4 linked regions of the Homo sapiens genome follow. The protein of the gene in region 3 purifies or fractionates together with the protein of the main gene of each other region. This does not show direct contact. Each region holds a gene or a part of one and is shown on either strand. Other genes may lie near its edges.

The links. The genes of interacting proteins can lie anywhere in the genome.
Region 1: the proteins of C1orf198 (region 3) and B3GALT2 purify together in Homo sapiens (co-immunoprecipitation; one large-scale study listed by IntAct). This does not show direct contact.
Region 2: the proteins of C1orf198 (region 3) and XXYLT1 purify together in Homo sapiens (co-immunoprecipitation; one large-scale study listed by IntAct). This does not show direct contact.
Region 4: the proteins of C1orf198 (region 3) and DHCR24 purify together in Homo sapiens (co-immunoprecipitation; one large-scale study listed by IntAct). This does not show direct contact.

What each region holds. Positions count from the first base shown.
Region 1 is NC_000001.11:193,180,922-193,183,613, forward strand, and holds part of B3GALT2 (beta-1,3-galactosyltransferase 2), read right to left. Parts: intron 762-2,692; 5' UTR 642-761; coding exon 1-641. UniProt on the Homo sapiens protein: Beta-1,3-galactosyltransferase that transfers galactose from UDP-galactose to substrates with a terminal beta-N-acetylglucosamine (beta-GlcNAc) residue. Can also utilize substrates with a terminal galactose residue, albeit with lower efficiency.
Region 2 is NC_000003.12:195,264,660-195,268,159, reverse strand, and holds part of XXYLT1 (xyloside xylosyltransferase 1), read left to right. Parts: intron 1-3,500. UniProt on the Homo sapiens protein: Alpha-1,3-xylosyltransferase, which elongates the O-linked xylose-glucose disaccharide attached to EGF-like repeats in the extracellular domain of target proteins by catalyzing the addition of the second xylose.
Region 3 is NC_000001.11:230,836,696-230,842,104, reverse strand, and holds the end of C1orf198 (uncharacterized protein C1orf198), read left to right. Parts: intron 1-2,196; coding exon 2,197-2,253; 3' UTR 2,254-4,986; downstream 4,987-5,409.
Region 4 is NC_000001.11:54,863,196-54,866,695, reverse strand, and holds part of DHCR24 (delta(24)-sterol reductase precursor), read left to right. Parts: intron 1-1,249; coding exon 1,250-1,393; intron 1,394-3,500. UniProt on the Homo sapiens protein: Catalyzes the reduction of the delta-24 double bond of sterol intermediates during cholesterol biosynthesis.

The DNA of each region.
Region 1 (2,692 bases), about 38 Mb from region 3:
TCATGATATTGTCTGCTTTCTTCCAGTATTGCACGTTGAAGGTAGCCATTTAGCTTAATACTTAAGCCCAACAAAAATATTCTTGTGATTTGAATACCAGGTGCTAGACTTTCATTGCCCCAAGTTTGCCGAATAGCTCTTCTAGCTTCTATTTGTCCAGGCTCTGCAGCTATTAGTAGTATTAAAAAAGGACTTTTCTCTTGGCATTTTTCAGGCTCATTAATAATATATTTGAAATGGTAAGAATTTGGATGTCCAGTACCTTTTTCATTGTAAATACTTCCATTGGCACTAAGTGTATTCTCCAGGCCTGTAACTCCTTGTGGTGACAGGTCTGTGTTATTAGAGTTAGTTGCTGTTTGAGGCCTCAGGGTTTGAGGGACTGTTTCTTTCCAAATGTTCCGAAGGGAGCTGTGGTTTGTCTCACTTTTTGTTGACCGAAATCCTCGGAAAGTGTATGTCACAGGGTTTTCTTTGAATCCAGCTCTGCCTGGCAGCCAGTCATGATGATTGAAAAACAAAAACATAGCAAAAAGAAACACTAGAGAAAGTACTCCAATAAGATGAGTGCGGAACAGAGACCTTTTGGCATTCCAGGTCATCTTTGCAAAGCAGCAGTGTCTTCTCCTCCACTGAAGCATGTTGTAAATATCCAGTAGTGGTATATGAGAGATTGGTGACCAAAAATGTTTTCTTCTCCTTAATACTATTCTTTGGCAATCATTTTCTAATTCAGTCACATTGTCTCTCTTGTAGTCATTCTATAAAAATGAAGCACAAAAGTTTACAGAACTGCCTGAAAGGGACTTTGGGTACTAATATGATCAGGGCAAATAGGAATGTCTTAAGCTGTGAAAATATAACCCAGGAACGAAGCTTGTAATTTATTTCCCCTTGGCAACATAACATCACTGAGAACAAGATTAATTTATTTAAAAATATACCTTTGTAGCACAGTGAGCATTTTAAAGAGATGAGGTGATGGATTCATTTCATTGTCTTGTTACACTGGTCATTTGTACTTTTGACCCAAGTTAAAGATTTAAAAGTTGAATGTATTCGAGAAAAATGTTACTAGATTTCTGAGAAGGGTTGTGTAAAAACGCCTTAAGAGCAGATGGAAAATTTATTGGCATTAATTAAAATTGATTTGACATACTATTGGTGGTATGGTGCACAGTCAGAGGCCTTTTTTGTAAAATGGTCATGTATCAGTTGTGGGACAGACGGTGCAAGGTTGATTATGGCAGAGTTCTGTTAGTCACAGTACACTGCTTGGCATGTTTCCATTGGCCCCTACTGTGTTGAGAAAGTCAATGAGAAGATGCACCTGTCAAAATTAATTTTCAGGGTCTAGTAACTTCAGTGTAGGATTTTTAGACAGTAATAAATGATTAACACTTTCAAAAATTTTAACTTTTCTTTGTAAATATGAAGTATTCATGATATAATTGTTCTTAGACTTAAGATTAATTTTAAAATACAGCATGTAAGTGTCTTTGATTATCTATGGCTTTGGCAGAACACTGTTACATATCTTGGTTGAGTCTCCATGTTAGAATTAAAAGAGCTACTTTGAAACCAACTGTTTAAAATTCTGAATTTCACACAATATATTTTTAAATATCCTTGAGTTGTGCTTTATTCTAAATTTACATGCAGATAATTTGTTAAACTTTTAGAACTTGTCATTAGCACAGTTAGAGCCCTATATTTTAAAAAGGTTATGAGATGGCAATATGTGAGGTTCATGATGGCATATATTAAGAACTGGTTATGTTATCTTGCAACAAGGTTTTCAGTGCATAGCACAGATTTGTTCACATTTGTTCTTAGTGTTTTTGTTGTTGTTTTTAGTTTTTGGGGACCAATATGTCGAGGGAGTAGAGGTGGGCAAAGAGGTATAGTTTGAATTCCATTAAAACAGGAGAAAACTTTTTGACAAGGAGTGATGAATATGTAATTTTAATTTTTCCAACTTTTTATTATGAAAATTACTTCTTTAAGCAAAAGAAATCAATTAAAAAGTTTTAATACAGGAGCATTTATTTGAAATTACAGTGTATGCATAAATACATGTATGTATTTAGCCTGTGATAATGAGAGAGTCATGGTTAATATTAAATTTGTTTAACCTTGGCATAAATTTAATTACTTCTAGGAAATAGAATTTACATGGAAATCCTCATGTAATTGAATAGTTATAAAGTAAAATTCACATACATAACGTTAAGTACTTTGAAAATATTGATTGAAAGTGTTAGATGTAAATGAATGAAAGTGCTATTATAGTAGCAGCCACTAGGAGGAGCAAGTAGGTGGGAATTTGAACAAATATCTAAGGTCCAACCATATAGGCACCAGCGTTTGAAATTTCTAGTTTCTGAGATTACAGAGTACTTTTAGAAGTTATAATATTTCTAAAATGTAAAAAAATTAAGCATTTTGAAAGATGTGAACAATTTTTTTAAGTTTGGAATTTTAAAAGCAAATCATCTAGTATGCTATTTGTTAGAATTTGTTTATATGAATTTAAACTCAGCATTAGTGTAATGAAAACCAAGGCTATTCACTGTACCAACAAAACATAGTTCTGCTGTAAGCTAAGCTGAAAATAATAGAGCTGAGCATTCTGATTTAGAAACTCAGTGTTTTCCTTCTTGTACTTTTAAATAGCTGGCCATTCTTTTTA
Region 2 (3,500 bases), on a different chromosome or scaffold from region 3:
CCGCGCCTGGCCTCCGTTACTTTGTTTTGTTTTGTTTTTGATAAGAATTCTTGCTATGTTGCCCAGGCTGGTCTTGAACTCCTGAGCTCAAGCAATTCTCTTGCCTTAGCCTCCTGCATAGCTGGGATTACAGGCACACACCACTGCACCTGGCATTCCCATGATTTTTGAGTTCATATTTTGTAAATTTTTCTGTTTGTGATGAAAAGTGCTCTTTTTTTCCTTTAAATGTGCGATTCTAAAAGGTTTGCTTCATTTTACTTGTGATTTAATTCTTCCTCAGGTTTGGAATATTCCTGAAAAGAACATATGTCACATGCCTTTCCTCTGTCTGGAGTTCTCCCTGCCTCCATCCTTGGTACTCAGCTTTCAGGTCTCGGCTTTGGTGTTCTTTCCTTGGTAAACCTTTCCTGAGCCCCCATTACACACTTTCAAACTCCAAGCACTGTTCCTTAGTAACATTTATCACAGTTGTATTTATATAATCGTTGGAGTAATTATTTGTCTTCCTTGCTAGACTCTAAACTCCTTAAGGGCACTGACATTGACGTGTCTTAAATGCTGCCTCCCTAGCACCTGACAGATGAGGGAATTTTATACTGGAATTGTTTTTTCAGTATTGACTCGGAAGAAGGAAACTAGAATTTCTCACTCTGGCTGTGCCAGAGCTGGAAGGGATTTGGAGTATATAGCATGACAGGTGAGGAAACTCGCCCAAGGCTTTCTGGAGAAGTTACTCAGTTGTGGCTGGACCTGCATCCTAGGTCAGTGCTGTTCCCTTTGTGCTGTATTTCCCCTTTAAGGAGCACTTCTGTCTTGTAAAGTCCAGGGGGCAGTTTATTCCCAGGGAGAATTGATTTGAGTGGTGTTAGAACTGTCTGAAGATAGCCTGGGGGCTCCTCTTCCCTTCAGTTGGCTCTGGGACCTCAGCATGGCTGCAAGATGCAGAGCAGGGCCACAGTGAACTGGCACGGGGCTGGTGCCCACACACCGAGGTCTCAGGCCATTTTCAAGTGGCATAGAAACACCTTGTAGCTGAAATGGTTGCAGAAATAGATCACAGAACATTATTAGTGACCTTAGATTTTATTTTGGCTAATTGGATATTAGCTAAAAAGGATTCATGTATCTTGTTTTAAATATGTTTGAAGGTTTTAATTAATCTGTTAGTTTATTATCTGTGAACAGGGAAGCATATTATTTGTTAATCAGTAAACTTCAGAGCTTGCTATGTTCCAGGTACCAGTATAGGAGGAGCTGCTTCTAGCCTATACAGTAAGTCCATTTTCTAAATGCATCAGAATCACCTGGGGACACTTGAAAATACAGAATCCTGGGCCCCACCCCAGCCTGTGGGCTCAGAATCTCCTGGGTGGGGCCTGGAAGTCTGTATTTGGATGGAGTTACAGAGGCAGGCTTGGGCGTCACTGCTGTAAGAAATCCAGGAGTGCTCTCCTGCTGGTCTCTAAGACCCAGTTCAGGCATCCTGTCCTCTGGGTAACCTTCCGTGGGGAGCATGATGCCTGGCTCACAGTGGGCGTTCAGGAACTGTTTGACTGTGACTCTTCCATCCAGGCTATTTTGGCTGTGCTGATCTGGGAAAGGCTGCCACATTCACCTTGCTAAAATGCTGCCTTTTTTTTGTCTTTTTCTTTTATTTTTTTTTTGTGATAGAGTCTTGCTCTGTCACCAGGCTGGGGTGCTGTGGTGCGGTCTCGGCTCACTGCAACCTCTGCCTCCCGGGTTCAAGCGATTCTCCTGTCTCAGCTTCCGGAGTAGCTGGACTACAGGCACCCACCGCCACACCCAGCTAGTTTTTGTATTTTTTAGTAGCGATGGGGTTTCACCATGTGGGCCAGGATGGTCTCGATCTCTTGACCTCGTGATCCACCTGCCTCAGCCTCCCAAAGTGCTGGGATTACAGGCGTGAGCCACCGCACCCGGCCAGAATGCTGCCTTTATTGTATCGCTTCCATTCAGAACCTCCAGTGGCTTCTGGCTACCTGTCCTCCCAGGTCATTTCAATGTCCTAGACCCACAGCAGTGGCTGAGCTTCCTGAATTCTTCTCATGGCGCTTTGCTTGCTCTGCTTCTGAGCATCTGTTGTCTTTCTGTCAAGTGCAGTCTCACACTTGTAAAACTTAGATCAAGACTTATCCCTTCCATGTGCCTTTCCTGCCAGATCAGGTTTGACAGAATATACCATGAAACCCCCAAATAATGGTGGCTTAAACAAGGTTGAATTTATGTCTCGTTTCAATGCAGTCCAGAGGTAGGCATTTCTGGGCTGGCATGGGGGCTTCGTGAAGCCACCACGGTCCTCGGCTCCTTCCAGCTCTGTGTTTCACCATCCCTGAGGGTGGCGCTGTCTTCGTGGTCCAGGATGGCTGCCGGGGCTGGGGCCATCACATCTGTGTTGCTGGGTCGCATTTACTCCAGTTTAGCCCAGTGCTGCTGTGTGTATTGTTTCGGGTCCAGTCTCATCACATGGTTCTACTCTACTGACTTCTGGGAAAATGATCACAGTGAACAGGCCTCAAGGCGCCTCTCATGTCTCCTCTCCTTCCCCATGCTGGCCAGCTCTCTGCAGAGGCGGTGGGGCCCACCAGCCACTGCTTGTATGGCCTCCATGGAGCACAGCAATATTGCTTCTTTGTGGTATTTGCCTTGTGCTATCAGCTCAAATCTTAACTGTTCAGAAAGACCTTCCCCGAATCTCTTGTCTAACGCAAGCCTCATGCCAGCCTTCATCTTTCCCATCACCTTGTGCATTTTTTTCTTTTTTTTTTTTTTGAGATGGAGTCTCGTTCTGTCACCCAGGCTGGAGTGCAAGGGTGCGATCTTGGCTCACTGCAGCCTCTGCCTCCTTTCAAGCGATTCTCCTGCCTCAGCCTCCCAAGTAGCTGGGATTACAGGTGCCTGCCACTACGCCCACATAATTTTTGTATTTTTAGCAGAGATGGCGTTTCACTATGTTGGCCAGGCTGGTCATGAACTCCTGACCTCAGGTGATCCACCTGCCTTGGCCTCCCAAAGTGCTGGCATTACAAATGTGAGCCACCGTGCCTGGCCTTTTCTTTTACTCTTTTTTTTTTTTTGAGATAGGGTTTCTGTCTGCCGCGCAGGCTAGAGTAGAGCACAGTGGTGTGATCACAGCTCACTGTAGCTTCAAACTCCTGGGCTTAGGGGATCCTCCTGCCTTAGCCTCCTCAGTAGCTAGAACTACAGGCATGTGCCTCCATGCACAGCTAATTTTTTTTAACTGTTTTGTAGAGATGGGATCTCACCTTCTTTCCCAGGCTGGTCTCAAACTAGTGATCCTCCTGCCCTAGCTTCCCAAAATGTTGGACTGCAGTTGTGAGCCAACACGCCCGGCTGTGCATGTCTTTTATAGCATGTATTCATTTTTTCATGTATTCATTCATAGGGTGTTGTTAAGTGCATATCCTGTGCCAGACACTGTTCTAGGTACTTGTGAACAGCAGGGAACAGAACAAGTT
Region 3 (5,409 bases):
TCCACTTTCTGTGTCTGTGAATTTGACTCCTCTAGGTACCTCATATAAGTAGCACCATATAGTATTTACCCTTTTGTGACTGACTTACTTTACTTAATGTGACGTCTTCAAGGCTCATTCATGTTGTAGCAAGTGTAGAATTGCCTTCTAAGGCTAATATTCCATCGTGTGGTTAGACCACATTTTGTGTATCCACTCATCCATCGACAGACACTTGGGTTGCTTCCACCTTCTGGCTATTGTTGTCTGTTAGGAATAGTGCTGCTGTGAACGTGTATGTACAAATAAGTCTTCCAGCCCCTGCTTTCCCTTCTCCTGGGTGCATACCCAGATGTAGAATTGCTGGATCACATGGTGGTTCTATTTCTACTTTTTTGAAGAACCTGCATACTGTTCGCCACAGCAGCTGCGTCATTTTACATTCCCATCAATGTGGGTTCGCGTTTCTCCACTCCCTTGCAACACTTGTTATTTTCTGTGTCTTTGCTGGTGCCATGCGAAGGGGTATGAGGTGGTGTCTCACCGTGGTTTAGACTTGCCTGTCCATGATCGTGAATGATGTTGAGCCTCATTTCATGTGCTTATTGGCCATCTGTGTATCTTCTTTGGAGAAATGTCCAATGGTCCCTTGCCCATTTTTAAATTTTTGGTTATTTTGTTGTTGAGTTGAGATCATCACTGATAACATTGAATGTCCCCCAGAGCAGGTTTCCAGTACTTCCACACCTCCCTCGGCAGATGGCTGCACGTGCTGTCCTCCCGAGGAGGGAGGATCCAGCGGTGCTAGTACCTTCTGCCCACCTCGGCTCCACATCAGTGCTCTAGCCTGTCCTCTTCGTGTTTCTGCACCTTCTTAAGCTAGTGCTTTCAGCCCTCTTGTTTCCTGCCTTCTCCGGTACCTGCCCATCTCTCCGTTCTGTTTTCTGTCTCACATCCTCCTGCCCATCAGCTCCTCCTTACAGACAGGCTCAGTTCCCTGCCTCCCTAACCAGCACTCTTTCTCTGAGACTCGGCACTGAGGGCTTCCTCTGAAAGAAGTATTTCCATAAAATAGGTGATAGTCCCCACTCTAAAGAGAAGCAGGAACGTGTTTCTGTGTGGGCAGTGGAGAGTAGGAGACAGCACATGAAATTCCTTTGAGAGAACAGATTTCTGAGTAAAGCACAGTGAAATGCCACTGCATTTAAGAAACTGGAAGGAAACCAGAACAAGGAAAACTGGATTGCACTCCTTCCATTCTGCATGTTTTGCCTCACTCTGCACCAGTCTCACATGTAGCCAAACTGGGCCTGAGACAGGTGTCAAGGGCAAGCCCATTAGCCCATTGCCTGCTCTTGCCGCCATGTATGCATTTTCTGCTGGCCGGCTGCTTGGAGGGTGGAGAGTCAAGGTTTCTTTGCTCAAGAAGACCTTGGCGCACCAGGTAAATGCCTGCCGGTGTTAGGCTGGAGGAAAGGGACATCAGAAACAGGCTGCTGAGTGGAAGCCAGTCAGAAGTTTTATGAAAACAGCAGCAGCTTGAGACAGCCCATGCTCACAAGAGGGGACCTGTCAGTTAAGCCCTTTCCCCTGAAAGAAGAATGACATTAAACCAGGCCTTGTGGTGCACGCCTGGTGCATGCCTGTAGTCCCAGCTACGTGGGAGGCCGAGGCAAGAGGATCGCTTGAGCCCCGGAGGCTGAGCTTAGAGTTTGGGAAAATCACTTCATAACCTTTCACAAGATCTGAAAGAAATAAGCTTCACATTCTTTCCACACTATGTTTACTTTCTCAACTTTACAAGTTCTTTTTTGTTGTGTTTGTGTGTGATGTTTGTTTTATATTTGAAGGAATATCTTTATCATTTGTTCTCTTATTTAGGATGAATAAATTTAAACATGGCTGTCATTCAGAAACAGAAAAGATTTATAGAAAAATACAGAGACATTGTTCTTTTCTCTGTAAGGTCTGTAAGCTGCTCACAGACATGCCTGGGGTTGAAGAGGGGTTAGTGTTGGATGCTGGCAGAGTATAGATTGCATTGAACTGTATTTAATCTTCTGATTTCAAGCACTGAGATAAATTGAGGTCAGGGAACCTCTGAGACAGAAGTAGGCTCTTTTATCTGGGTCGTTTTAAATGAGATGCTGTTTTTAGATTATACGTAACTGAAAAAAAGAGGCTCGTCTTACTTCCATGTTTTTGTCCCTTCTACAGGTCAGCTCAAGTAATGTCGTCTTGAAGACGGGATTTGATTTTCTGGACAATTGGTAAAATGTATTAGAAAAATACAATGAAGAACCCTAAAATGTTTTCCAAAGTGGTGTGGTGGAGGAGGATAAAAAGGGCCACCTTTTCCTATGTATTTTACTGGTTTCTTGACACTCTTTTCTTAATCATTTGGAAACTGGTCAATATTGCCAGATTTTTTTCTTTTTTGGTAGAACCAGATATATATGCTATTTTCAGTGATTTGATAACAGAAGTTTTCCATTTGGAATTTTTAAGGTCTGTTAATAATTCAGGAGATCTTGTAAATAAAACTTCTGTTCCCAGCTCCACCCAACTTTCCCCCTCCTCAAAGGATGTGTTTCAACCATGTCACAAAAATCATATAAGTGATTTCCATCTCCTTCTCCATTATTCCCCCTCCCCCCTCCGCTTTTTACCGTATGGGTTCCTTTTGGTGGGTGATTGAGGGTGATGTTATCAGCCATGACATCAGCATGCTGGCTGTGACCCCGGAAAGACTGGCCCCCAGCGACGTTCTCAGCCAGCGCTCGCAGCTGTCCGGGGCTTCTCTGGCAGAAGCCATGTCTCTCACATCATGTGCCAGCCTCCACCCTCACGCCATTTCCAGGGAACAGACTGCGGGTATGTAGCAGTGTAGTCTTTAACCTGCTCTGATACATATTCAGAGTATGGATTGTTGTTTAAAAAGAGTTGCATGTTTAAAGAGTTTTGTACTAGCTTTTCATTATTTTGTATCTAGATTATCAACAATGGGGCTACCACTTTCCTTGGTTTTATATCCATTTCCTCTTGGAAGTTCTTGTTGCTTATGTGACCTGTTGGTTGTTCCCCGGACTGGGCACCTACAGGAGTCAGGGCAGACGGCAGATGTGGCTGGAGGTCAGGGCTCTTCTGCTTAGTTGTGTTAGAGTCTTCCAGCATGGGACTGATGGGAGCAGTGGGCATTCTTTATCCCAAGGGCTAGCCAGGTTGCGTCATGACGGACCTTCCCCAGCCCTGACCACCACCAGAAGTGGAAGAGTGGAGTTTGCGGTCAACTCAGCAGTGCCCATGGAGACCTGCGTGGTGTCAGAGCAGCAGTATCTCTTGGAGCTGGTGCAGACACCAAGGCTGCCCAGTGGTACAACGTGGTCCACCTCCCCTAGGGAAGCTGCTGCACTCAGAGGCTGTCCTGCCCAGTGGCCCCTGAGCCGTGTGAGCCTGCAGGAGGCGTCTGAGCAGAGCCTCAAGCCCGGTATGGCGCCATCTCCATGTTGCCATCACTGCGTTCTCACCTGAAGCCTTAATCTTTGCGACACCTGCCAGTGAGCGCTCGGTTTCAATACCAAAGTGTGTCTTCTTCTTTTTTTTTTTTTTTTAAATGCCTGTTTCATAGGACCTTCTGAAATGATTTCCAGAATATTTTATCTGGCTCCAAAATAAAGCACATAGCAACTCACCTCAACCCCTCATCATCTCCAGGAAAGTTTCTGCCAAAGCTGTGGCATAGCCAACTTTTGATTTGGTTCTTGCCAATTGTTTTATGTCCCTAAACCTCATTTGGATCCTTGGGGTATAGTTTTATCTTTCTGCTTCAGTGATTTACTGTAACTTTTCAAATATTGGTTCTTTCTGTACCATTTAAGTATAGTTGATATATGTGAGGCAAAAAAAGGTTTCAGCATGGTGGTGAGGGAAAAAGGAGCTTAGAAATCCCAGTTGGCACAGCCTGGGCAAGCGCCAGCTCCCCTCAGGGCTAACGGCACTGTTCACACAGGGATCCTCAGAATCAGCGGCCACCTGCCTCCACCTTCTGCCTGGAGGGCATGGGGCTGTTGTAGAACCTATGGTAGCAAATGTATATGTATGAGTTTGTATTCTGTAGTGTTGGTGTAGCACAGAAGAAAGACCTGTGTCCTAGAGAGTAGGCCAAGGTGATCTGCCTCTTCTATTGGGAGAAATTCTAATTTCTTTCCCACTTTCTCAACAAGCCCAATATTCCCTCCAAGTTCTTCTTGGTGCTGAGGGCTGTAGGAATTATTGAAAGCTTCTGCCTCACTTAGTATCGTCTGGGGCCCAGCACCCAGCAATAACTCTAATAATGTTTCTTAATGGTATAGCCTCCTGAGATTAAATGTAAAATCAAAAATTAGGAAATCTTGGAGGGAGTCCTCAAGTTGTATTGCTTTGCTGTGCTTTTGGAAGAAGGGACGACCTGGAGGACACAGGCTCCTGTGTGGGTCTTCATCCTGCCTGACCGGCAGATCTTCCTCTACACCTTGGGCAAAGTCTATGCGAAGATGGTTTCTTAGCTCTCCATTTGCCATGATTTTCCTCCCATTCATCATGAGGGAGTTTCTCAAACCAGGAGTTTATATTTATTTTTTAGAAAATACACACTTTTCAGGAGAAACCTGAGCATGATTTTGGATTCTCCACCTCCCCCCAGTCTCTGCACCTGGGATTCAGCTCAAGGATTCAGTGTCTTCATTTTTACAAAAGTTCCCCCAAGAAATCAGCAACCAGCCTCTGTTTCATCTGGGAGCCCCTCCCTTGGCCCCCTGGGTTTGGGGGTGCTGCCCTACTGGGAACAGCGGGGGTCTGTCACCCGTCTGAGCCGCACCCCCCTGTGTGGATTTCAGGAAGAGCCTCCCTTTCTTTGCGTCTCCCTTTCTTTAATTAACATTTTCAAAAGTAATAAATTCTTACTGACGACTTGTAACTTAGTCATATTTTATACTTGTAGCCTTTAATAAAGCCATTTAAAAAATGCTATTTGTGTCTGTGATGGGCCTCTGCTGGTGTCAGGAAGCCTATGGAGATGATTGCAGTTGAACACAAAAGAGAAAAAGGGGTTTGTGCTAGTGAAAGCTAGCTTAAGCCACTTCCGGAAGCCTGCTTTGCAGTCTTGGTGCGGTCCTCTCTGCAGGTTTGTGGGAGGTGATGGCTGCTAGCAGGAGGGGTGGGCTCTGTCTTGGGGGATACTTGCACAGCCCTCGGGTGAAATGGAAGCATTGGCAAGCCTTTCCAGACAAGCTTATTGTATTGAGTGACTGGCTCTGAAAAGCTGCCTTCCTGAAAGCTTTCGTGTTGCATCTAGTCAAAGCTGATTTTTTATGGGAGGATGGGGAATAGAAATACAAAATAAAACATGGCCGGTCAGTCCTATTCCATTCATTAAAGTGTAGGTGGTAAATT
Region 4 (3,500 bases), about 180 Mb from region 3:
CGGCAAAGGGTTGCCTGGCTGTAGGGTAGAGCAGGTCAACAAGGGAATGGGTGGGGACTGATACTTCAGCCACCTGTGGACCAGGCACCGTGCTTGGCACTTTCTACATCATCTCTTTTAGTCTTCCAGAAATGCTAAGTAACCTGCCTAGGCTCTGCTAAGTGTGTTGTAAATGGAAAAAGCAAATTGGCAAACAGTACGTGTAAGATGGTCCCATTTTTCAGGAGGCTGAGGCAGGAGAATGGCGTGAACCAGGGAGGTGGAGCTTGCAGTGAGCCAAGATCGTGCCACTGAACTCCAGCCTGGGCGACAGAGCGAGACTCTGTCTCAAAAAAAAAAAAAAGATGGTCCTATTTTTTAAAAACAGTGGGCATATGTATGTAATTTCTAATAGACAAATAACTCCCACAAAGTATGTATTTTTATTGTCATGTTACATGTGAAGAAACAGGCTCAGAGATGACCTGCCTGGGTGTGTCCCCAGCTGCCCACCCTAAAGCTTGTGCTTTTCCAGGATCCCCCCTGCCTCTCCCCGAGAGCATCTGCCAGAATTCATTTATGGATGAGGAAGCTGAGGCCAGGAGAAGCTCAGCCATCCCAAGGCACACAGCACATTGAGTCATGACCATTTAGGGCTGCAGGAGACATCAGCTCAATAGAAGATTTGGGTGTGGGAGCCCCCAGGGCCAGGGAGGTATGAGCCTTATTCATGTGAGCATCCTCCAGACGATGGTGGCTGCCTGGGGAGTGCTGTACCCGGAGGACTGTGGAGCTTGGTCCAGGGACAGCAGGGAAAGTGCCATGACCAGTTGGTGCCATGAGCCCTGGGTTGCACTGAGGGGCTGACCCATTCCCAGAGTTCGTGCTTCCCTGGCCTTGGGGAAGGTGGGAAGGGAGGGAGGGAGGGAATTCCCCTGCATGGGGCACTGCATCAGGGCAGTTAAATGTTTAACTCTGTTAAACACTTGCACCAGGCTAGGCGGGGTCGCTGAGTTCTCTAGACTGTCGGGGACTCACTGTTTGGCCCTGGGCACACACCACTTAACCTCTTTGAGCTCCTGCTCTCTCTGCTAGAGGATACCCGCTGTGCCTAACCTCACCAGCTTTCAAGAGTCTCAAAGGCAGTAATAGACATGAAAGAGCTTTGAAAAGGCCAGGAGTGCTGAACAGAAGCCGGGTGTCGCTGTTACACCCCGATGGTGCTGGGCGCTTGTCTGCAGGCTGATCACAATGCCCTCTGTCATTTCAGCTGAATAGCATTGGCAATTACTACAAGCCGTGGTTCTTTAAGCATGTGGAGAACTATCTGAAGACAAACCGAGAGGGCCTGGAGTACATTCCCTTGAGACACTACTACCACCGCCACACGCGCAGCATCTTCTGGGAGCTCCAGGTGAGGCTTAGGTTTCTGTAGCCCTGGCTCCTCCAGGCCAGCTGGGCAGGGAGCCCGGACAGTTAACACTGTAGCCATACTCTCTCCCTTCAGGGTAAAGAGTGGCTTTGTCCTAAGGAACTGCAATGCCTTCTTAAGCAGCAACACAGTCGTTTCCTTCTGAAGGAACCAACTACCTTCAGTTCAAGCAGCAGGCTCTTAGCAAGCATCTGCTTGGTGCTGGGGAGTAAGCCCCTGGGCCGGTACTTTGGGGAACACAGACCTGTTCCGCCCTTGAGGAAGGGTTAGCCTCTAGCCACGGTGAGCAGACAGATCCCTGCACTGTAAAGGGCCGCAGGAACATTAGTAGGAAGTGGCTAGTTCTGCCTAGGGCTCGAGGTAACAGCCAAGCCTGGCTGTGAAAGGTGAGTGAGAATTTGCTGTTGCATGTGTAGATGGGTGGGTGGATGAGGAGCAGTGACACTTTAAGTGGGGGAAGGTCAGGAAGAACCCCTCAGGAGATGACTTTGTGAGCAGGGACCTGAACATAGGGAAGGCAGACCAGGAACAACTCTGGGGAGGACTCTGGAACTCTGTTCACAGGCAGAGGGACAGCCAGAGCCCAGGGCTTGAGCTGGGCTAACAGGAAATTAAACATTATAAAATGGACAGTTCAGGGTAGTTTAGTACATTCACAGTGTTGTGCAACCACTACCTCTGTGTAGTTCCAAACATTTTCATCTCTGAAAAGGAAACCCTATACCCATTAAGCAGCCACTCCCTATTCTCTCCCCTTTCCCCAGCCTGTGGCAACCACCAATTCATCTTCTGTCTCTGCAGATTTACTTATTCTGGATATTTCACATATATGGAATCATTCAGTATGTGCCTTTTGTGACTGGCTTCTTTTACATAGCATAATGTTTTCATGTATCAATATTTCATTTCTTTTTATGGCGGGATAGTAGTTCATTATATGAGAGACCACATTTTGTTTTGTCACTCATCTGTTGATGGACATGTGGGTTGTTTCAACCTTTTGGCTACTGTGAACAGTGCTGCTACAAACCTTCATGTGCATGTATTTGTTTGAATACTTGTTTTCAGTTCTTTGGGATATAGAACTAGGAGTGGAATTGCTGGGTCATATGCTAATTCTGTGTCTAACTTTCTGAGCAACAACCAAACTCTTTTCCACTGAGGCTGTGCCATTTTTCATTCCCACCAGCAATGTATGAGCGCTCTATTTTTTCAACATTCTCACCAACACTTGTTATTTTCTGGTTTTTAAATTATTAGTATTATTATTATAGCCATTCTGGTGGGTTTATGGTATTGACTTGCATTTTCCTTGAAATTAATGATGCTGAGCATCTTTTTATATGCATGTTAACCGTTTTGTATATCTTCTTTGGTGAAAAGTCTATTTGAATCCTTTGCCACCTTTTAAAATTTGGTCATTTGTCTTTGTTGTTGAGATGTAAGAGTTCTTTGTGTATTCTGGATACTAGACCCTCATCAGATATATGATCTGCAAACATTTTCTCCAATTCTGTAGGTTTCTTTTCATTGTCTTGGTAACGTCCTTTGATGCACAGAAGTTTTTAATTTAGATGAATTCCAATTTATCTATTTTCCCTTTTGTTTGTGCTTTTAGTGCCATATATAAGAATTTATTGTCAAGTCCAAGCCCCTTTGTTTTCTTCAAAGACCTTTATAGTTGCAGCTCTAATCTTTAGGTTGTTGAGTGGGGTAGGAGTCCAGGCTCCATTCTTTTGCTTATAGCTATCCAGGTGTCCCAGCAAGGCTGCATGTGTTTGAAAAACAGCAAGAAGCCTTCGGAGCCAGCATGCCCACGCTGAGCTATGGTGAGGAATGAGGTCAAACAGGCACCAGAGGCTAGATCATATGGCTCCTTGTAGGTTAGGAAGGACTTTATATTTTATTCTAAGTATAATAGGAAGCCAATGAGGGCTTTGAACAGGAAAGTGGCATGGCCTGATTTTTGTTTTAAAAGAATAACTGTGACAGCTGGATAGAGTGGATGGGGACGGGAGTGGACAAGAGTGGAAGAGTAGAAGAAAGAAGATACTGTTGTCTGGGCAGCAGCAGAGGAGAAGTGTCAAAT